Linked DNA regions of Homo sapiens: region 1 is linked to region 2. The links come from fine-mapping of genetic effects on gene expression. A gene starts in region 2. The other region holds a variant in brackets. All regions are shown on one strand. Distances are from middle to middle.

Region 1 (2,905 bases), 46 kb before region 2:
CCGAGGCAGGCAGATCACTTGAGCCCACGAGTTCAAGACCAGCGCAGCAACATGACACAACCTTGTCTCTATAAAAATTACAAAAAAAAATTAGCTGGGCATGGTAGCATGTGCCTGTGGTCCCTGCTACTTGGGAGGCTTAGGTGGGAGGATCACCTGAGCCTGGGAGGTCAAGGCTGCAGTGAGTCAAGATTGCACCACTTTACTCCAGCCTGGGTAACAGAGCAAGAATCTGTATCAAAAAAAAAAAAAGCCAGGCACAGTGGCTCACACCTGTAATCCCAGCATTTTGGGAGGCCGAAGTGGGTTCACATGAGGTCAGGAGTTCGAGACCAGCCTGGCAAACATGGTGAAACCCCGCCTTTACTAAAAATACAAAAATTAGCCAGCCATTGTGGCGGGCGCTTATAGTCCCAGCTCCTTGGGAGGCTGAGGCAGGAGAATCGCTTGAACCTGGAAGGTGGAGGTTGCAGTGAGCCAAGAGCATGCCACTGCACTCCAGCCTGGGTGACAGAGTGAGACTCTGTCTCATAACAAAGAAAAAAAATGGTGGGAAGGCCCCTTTCCTTTAAAGGTGAGACCAAATGTTGCACACATCATTTCCTTCACATCTCATTGGCCAGGACTTAGTCACATGGCCACACACAACTGCAGTGGTGACTGGAAAATGTGATGTTATCCTAAGTATCTGTGTGCTAATTAATGGGGTTGCATTACTAAAGGAAGAAGAGGAAAGCACATGGGGGCAACTAGCTCTCTCTGCCACATATCATTATCATTACTCTAAGCACGCTCTGGATGAAACATCTTGTACAATTTGACAAAGTAACTATGGTCCTTAGGCATCCTTGACCTGATATAAGTATCATTACTGTCACATTCAGCTCAGGGCCTCTCTATTCAGAGCTTTACAGGCCTTGGGGTTTGGGGAGAGGCTGCAGATTCAACAAGAGCTTTCCTCCAGAAAAGTTTTATGTGCCTTAAATAAAGTGGGAAATTGAGGGAGAGGGGGGCTTCCTGGTTCCACATGAAGGAATACAGAGGTTGGAGAAAGGGTGGAGGCAAAGCCCTGAGGGGAGGCAGGCATCTCTCACTCCAAGGGGCTCCTCAGCAGAGGAGAGAGCCATGGTTAAGCTAAATAGCAACCCCAGGAACACCTCAGCTGTACTTCAGCTACTGGGGACCACAAGCAAGAGATGGACCCAGCTTGGAGTCTAGAGAGAGTCAGGGCATTTCCAACCACATATGGGTACCAGTCATGTGGAACCCCTGCCATCCCTTCAATTCTTTCCTCTCAATCTCTCACCCTGGGGGAGCCACAAACAGAAGGAAGAGAAAAAGGAGGAGAAGTAAAAGGGTGGATCACACACCCTGGCCCCTCAAAGTCCCTAGAGCTAGCATTAAACTGTATATGGTGTGATGACTTGGAGATTATGCCCATCTTTCCACTAGACTCTTCATTCAACAGGTATTAACTATGTGCCAGGTGCTGCTCCAGGCTCAGGGAAATGGATGTGAACGAGAGAGGAAACCTCCCTACCTTTAAGGAGCTTAC[G/A]TTCTTGGGGGGTGATAAACAATGGCTGCCTTGAGAGCAGTGACTATGTCCTGCTCATGGCTTTATCCCAGGACCCAGCACCTTATCTGGCTGGGGCTCACTGAGTGTTGCTTAGATGAACCACATCACAATTGAGTTTGTGTGGACACTTGTGGTTATCTCCCCAGCATCCAGTTTCCCCCTTCCCAGCGACTCTCAATTTCCACTTGGAGGACTACGTGGTTTGGGAAGAACTGACTTTGCCCCAGGTCTGAGGGTGGAGCATGTGAACTACACTAAGACAATCCAACTATTCTATCGCTCTGACATAAGTCGTTGGTTCAAGTGTGGGCATGTGTCTAATCAAAGTGGATCTCAGGACAAAGATGTTTTTTCTCCTCCTAGTGTGATGTAAAACCTGGAACCACTGCAGCTATTTTTGCTACTGTGGTGCTGGGATTACAGATGTGAGCCACTGCACCCGGCCAAAAATTTTTTTAAATTTAAGAAAAGAAATCAAGGGAGATAAGAAATGATTACTGTTGTTTTAAGCCTCTAAGCTTAGGGTCATTTGTCATGCAGTTTCAGATAATTATTAGGTGGGTGCAAATGTAACTAAAGTAATTAAAGTCATGGCCAAAACCGCAATTACGTTTGCATCAAACTAATAGTACAATTGACTATTGGGTGTGTCTGGAATACCATCCTTCTGCTTCTTTTTGTTTTCCTTAGAAACTCCTACTTGCTCTCCAAGGGCCAACTCAAGTTGTCACCTCTTCTGAGAAGCCTGCCCTAATTTTCCTGCTTAACCCCAAGCTCTGTTACACACAGCTCTATTAGCAGTCCTCACACTGTGATCTTATTGTTTATGAGGTTATTTCTCTCACTATAGCTTTTTGAAGGCAACAATTTTGAATTATCCAAATGCATACGCCTAAGACTGAGCATGGTATGTGCTACATTAAAAAGGAGTTTGATGAAGTTTGGTTGAATAAATAAATAATGGAAACTTCAGCTGTGGACAAGACAAAGAATGCTGGCGGGGTGCGGTGGCTCACGCCTGTAATCCCAGCACTTTGGGACGCCAAGGCGGGCGGATCACAAGATCAAGAGATCAAGACCATCCTGGCCAACATGGTGAAACCCCATCTCTACTAAAAAATACAAAAATTAGCCGGGCATGGTGGCGAGCACCTGTAGTCCCAGCTACTCGGGAGGCTGAGGCAGGAGAATCACTTGAACCCAGAAGGCGGAGGTTGCAGTGAGCTGAGATCATGTCACTGCACTCCAGCCTGGGGGACAAAGCAAGACTCCGTAAAAAAAAAAAAAAAAAAAGAGAGAGAGCGCGCACAAATTCAGATGTAGTTATAG
Region 2 (2,905 bases):
ACTGCACCCAGCCATGCTGGAAGCTTTTGAATACAACATGCTGCAGGCATCACAGCCTCATTCATTCCTTCACTCAGCAAATCTTTACTCAGCACCTAATGTGTTCCAGATACATTTTTTTTTTTCAGATGGAATCTAGCTCTGTCACCCAGGCTGGAGTGCAGTGGTGCAATCTTGGCTCACTGTAGCCTCTGCCTCCGAGGTTCAAGCGATTCTCATGCCTCAGCCGCCCTAGTAGCTAGGATTACAGGCGCCCTCCACCACACACAGCTATTTCCAGGTACATTCTTGACGCTAGGAATTCAGCAAAGAATAAGACAGTTAAGGTCTCCGATGCTCATAGGCCTCACATTTTAGAGAGGGATGAATGTCCAATAAGCATATAAACGTATAATATGTCAGGGTCGTATGACTACAAGGAACAGTGATTGTTACAACCCAGATGAGAGGGAAAAATAAAGGATTCCAAATATCCCCCTTGGGAAGTAGAGTCAGGATTCAAACAAAGAACTGTATGGCTTCAAGTTCATGGTCTTTAATCTCCTGGAGGCTGTCTCTCTTTCTTTTTTCTTTTTTTTAATCAGTGTTGGGATCAAATTCTGGCTCCCCTAGGAAGCATCTGGCAAGGTTTCGGGAGCCATCGGGTTGGCCATGTTATGCTGGAATATTTATAAGCACCGGAGGGTTATCCCCATGTCGTAGAAAATGAAACTGAAGCTCAGAGAGATTTGCACTCTCTGCCCTTTTGTACAACTCATTTTTCCCCAGTATGTGGAATTGAGGGAGCTTCACGCTTCTAGCTGTCATGATTCCAAGATTCTACGACATGTGGGAGAGGATCCTAAGGTTCGGGGAACCGCGGAGGTTTCGGGGTTCTAGAAATCCGAGGTTCTAAGCCTAGGTGCTCCAATAAACCCAGTGAGAGCCAGCCCAGGTTTCCGGTCTGTACCCGCTGGTGCAAGCCCAGAGACAAGCAGGCGCCACCCATGAGCCCCTCTGCGGCCCCCTCCCGGGTCCCACCTCGCAGGCCAGCTGGAGGGCGCGATCCTGGCGTCCCCCGACGGCCTGGGGCCCCAATCCAGAGGCCTGGGTGGGAGGGGACCAAGGGTGTAGTAAGGAAGCGCCTTTTGCTGGAGGGCAACGGACCGGGGCGGGGAGTCGGGAGACCAGAGTGGGAGGAAGGCGGGGAGTCCAGGTTCCGCCCCGGAGCCGACTTCCTCCTGGTCGGCGGCTGCAGCGGGGTGAGCGGCGGCAGCGGCCGGGGATCCTGGAGCCATGGGGCGCGCGCGCGACGCCATCCTGGATGCGCTGGAGAACCTGACCGCCGAGGAGCTCAAGAAGTTCAAGCTGAAGCTGCTGTCGGTGCCGCTGCGCGAGGGCTACGGGCGCATCCCGCGGGGCGCGCTGCTGTCCATGGACGCCTTGGACCTCACCGACAAGCTGGTCAGCTTCTACCTGGAGACCTACGGCGCCGAGCTCACCGCTAACGTGCTGCGCGACATGGGCCTGCAGGAGATGGCCGGGCAGCTGCAGGCGGCCACGCACCAGGGTGAGCCGCCCCCGTTCCCCTCCACCCCGTCTTTCCCCTCCACCCACACCAGCGCTTACCCCGCGGGCTCTTCCGCTTTCTGTTCCTCCTACCCCTAAACAAAGCTGCTCTACCGGAAAGGAGGCTCCCCACGCTTGGCCTACCGACCAACGGGACCCCGGCCCCACGGCGGGAAGGGAAGGGAAGGGGATCACTTGGCCCATATCCTTCCAGGCTCTGGAGCCGCGCCAGCTGGGATCCAGGCCCCTCCTCAGTCGGCAGCCAAGCCAGGTGAGGCCTCCACACCCAGCCCGGCCCCACCGCACTCCTGCACAGCCTGCATCTGTGCTCCCGCAACCAGGGCAGGGCAGGGCAGGGCAGGCACGGCTTGGCAACCCTGCGCACCCCACCCACCAACCCACACCCTGCGGGGGAAGGGAGACAATATTACCCTCATCCCACTGCATGTGGGGTCCTGGTGGCCGCCCCCTGGAGCCCTGCCCCTAGGCTTGCAGAGGAATTCCTGAAGAACTCAAGTTCAGCAGGGACAGGCCCCACACCCTGGCTGCTGGCTCATGTTCTCCTCCCACCCCCAGGCCTGCACTTTATAGACCAGCACCGGGCTGCGCTTATCGCGAGGGTCACAAACGTTGAGTGGCTGCTGGATGCTCTGTACGGGAAGGTCCTGACGGATGAGCAGTACCAGGCAGTGCGGGCCGAGCCCACCAACCCAAGCAAGATGCGGAAGCTCTTCAGTTTCACACCAGCCTGGAACTGGACCTGCAAGGACTTGCTCCTCCAGGCCCTAAGGGAGTCCCAGTCCTACCTGGTGGAGGACCTGGAGCGGAGCTGAGGCTCCTTCCCAGCAACACTCCGGTCAGCCCCTGGCAATCCCACCAAATCATCCTGAATCTGATCTTTTTATACACAATATACGAAAAGCCAGCTTGAACTTGTGTGTTTTCCTGCTTCTAGCCTGCTGGCATGTGCAGAGCTCAGCTATGCTTCAGAGGCCACCCAGCCTCCAGCTCCATGTCCCTAGGGTCTCTGGCACCCCAAATGCTTCCCCCATCCTTCCTGGTATCGCCATGGAATATCCCTCCTCATTCACCAGGTGGTGCTCCTCCAGTGCTCCCTAAAGGGTCTAACCTTACCATTATAGATAACAGCCTGTGACCCAGGTCCGAAGGTTAAAAGAGGCATGTACCAAAGGGCGCAAACTGGTGGGCAGCTCTGTCCAAGCCATTTAGAAACACACTAGTCTTCATAGCTCCCCTACCTTCCACATTTTCCACTGGAGAAAAATGCAGAATTAGAGAAATTTGCAGGGGGAGACACATTAGAGCATTATCTAAACATAGGACAGAAGAGCACAAG

What was found.
Region 1: its variant is fine-mapped to the expression of PYCARD in whole blood (TOPMed, PIP above 0.99).

The regions. Positions count from the first base shown.
Region 1 is chr16:31,247,477-31,250,381 of GRCh38, reverse strand. No RefSeq gene overlaps it. Among named protein-coding and RNA genes, the nearest start is that of ITGAM, 11 kb to the left of the region's middle. The variant G/A (reference allele first, on the strand shown) is at 1,556.
Region 2 is chr16:31,201,061-31,203,965 of GRCh38, reverse strand. It overlaps PYCARD (PYD and CARD domain containing), which reads left to right and starts at 1,206. Exons shown (of 3, transcript NM_013258.5): 1 at 1,206-1,549; 2 at 1,763-1,819; 3 at 2,125-2,480. The coding sequence starts at 1,276. The coding sequence ends at 2,381. It overlaps PYCARD-AS1 (PYCARD antisense RNA 1), which reads right to left and starts at 2,081. Exons shown (of 2, transcript NR_102400.1): 1 at 1,980-2,081; 2 at 514-1,506. RefSeq lists a silencer at 856-1,215 and enhancers at 1,326-1,555, 1,745-2,375.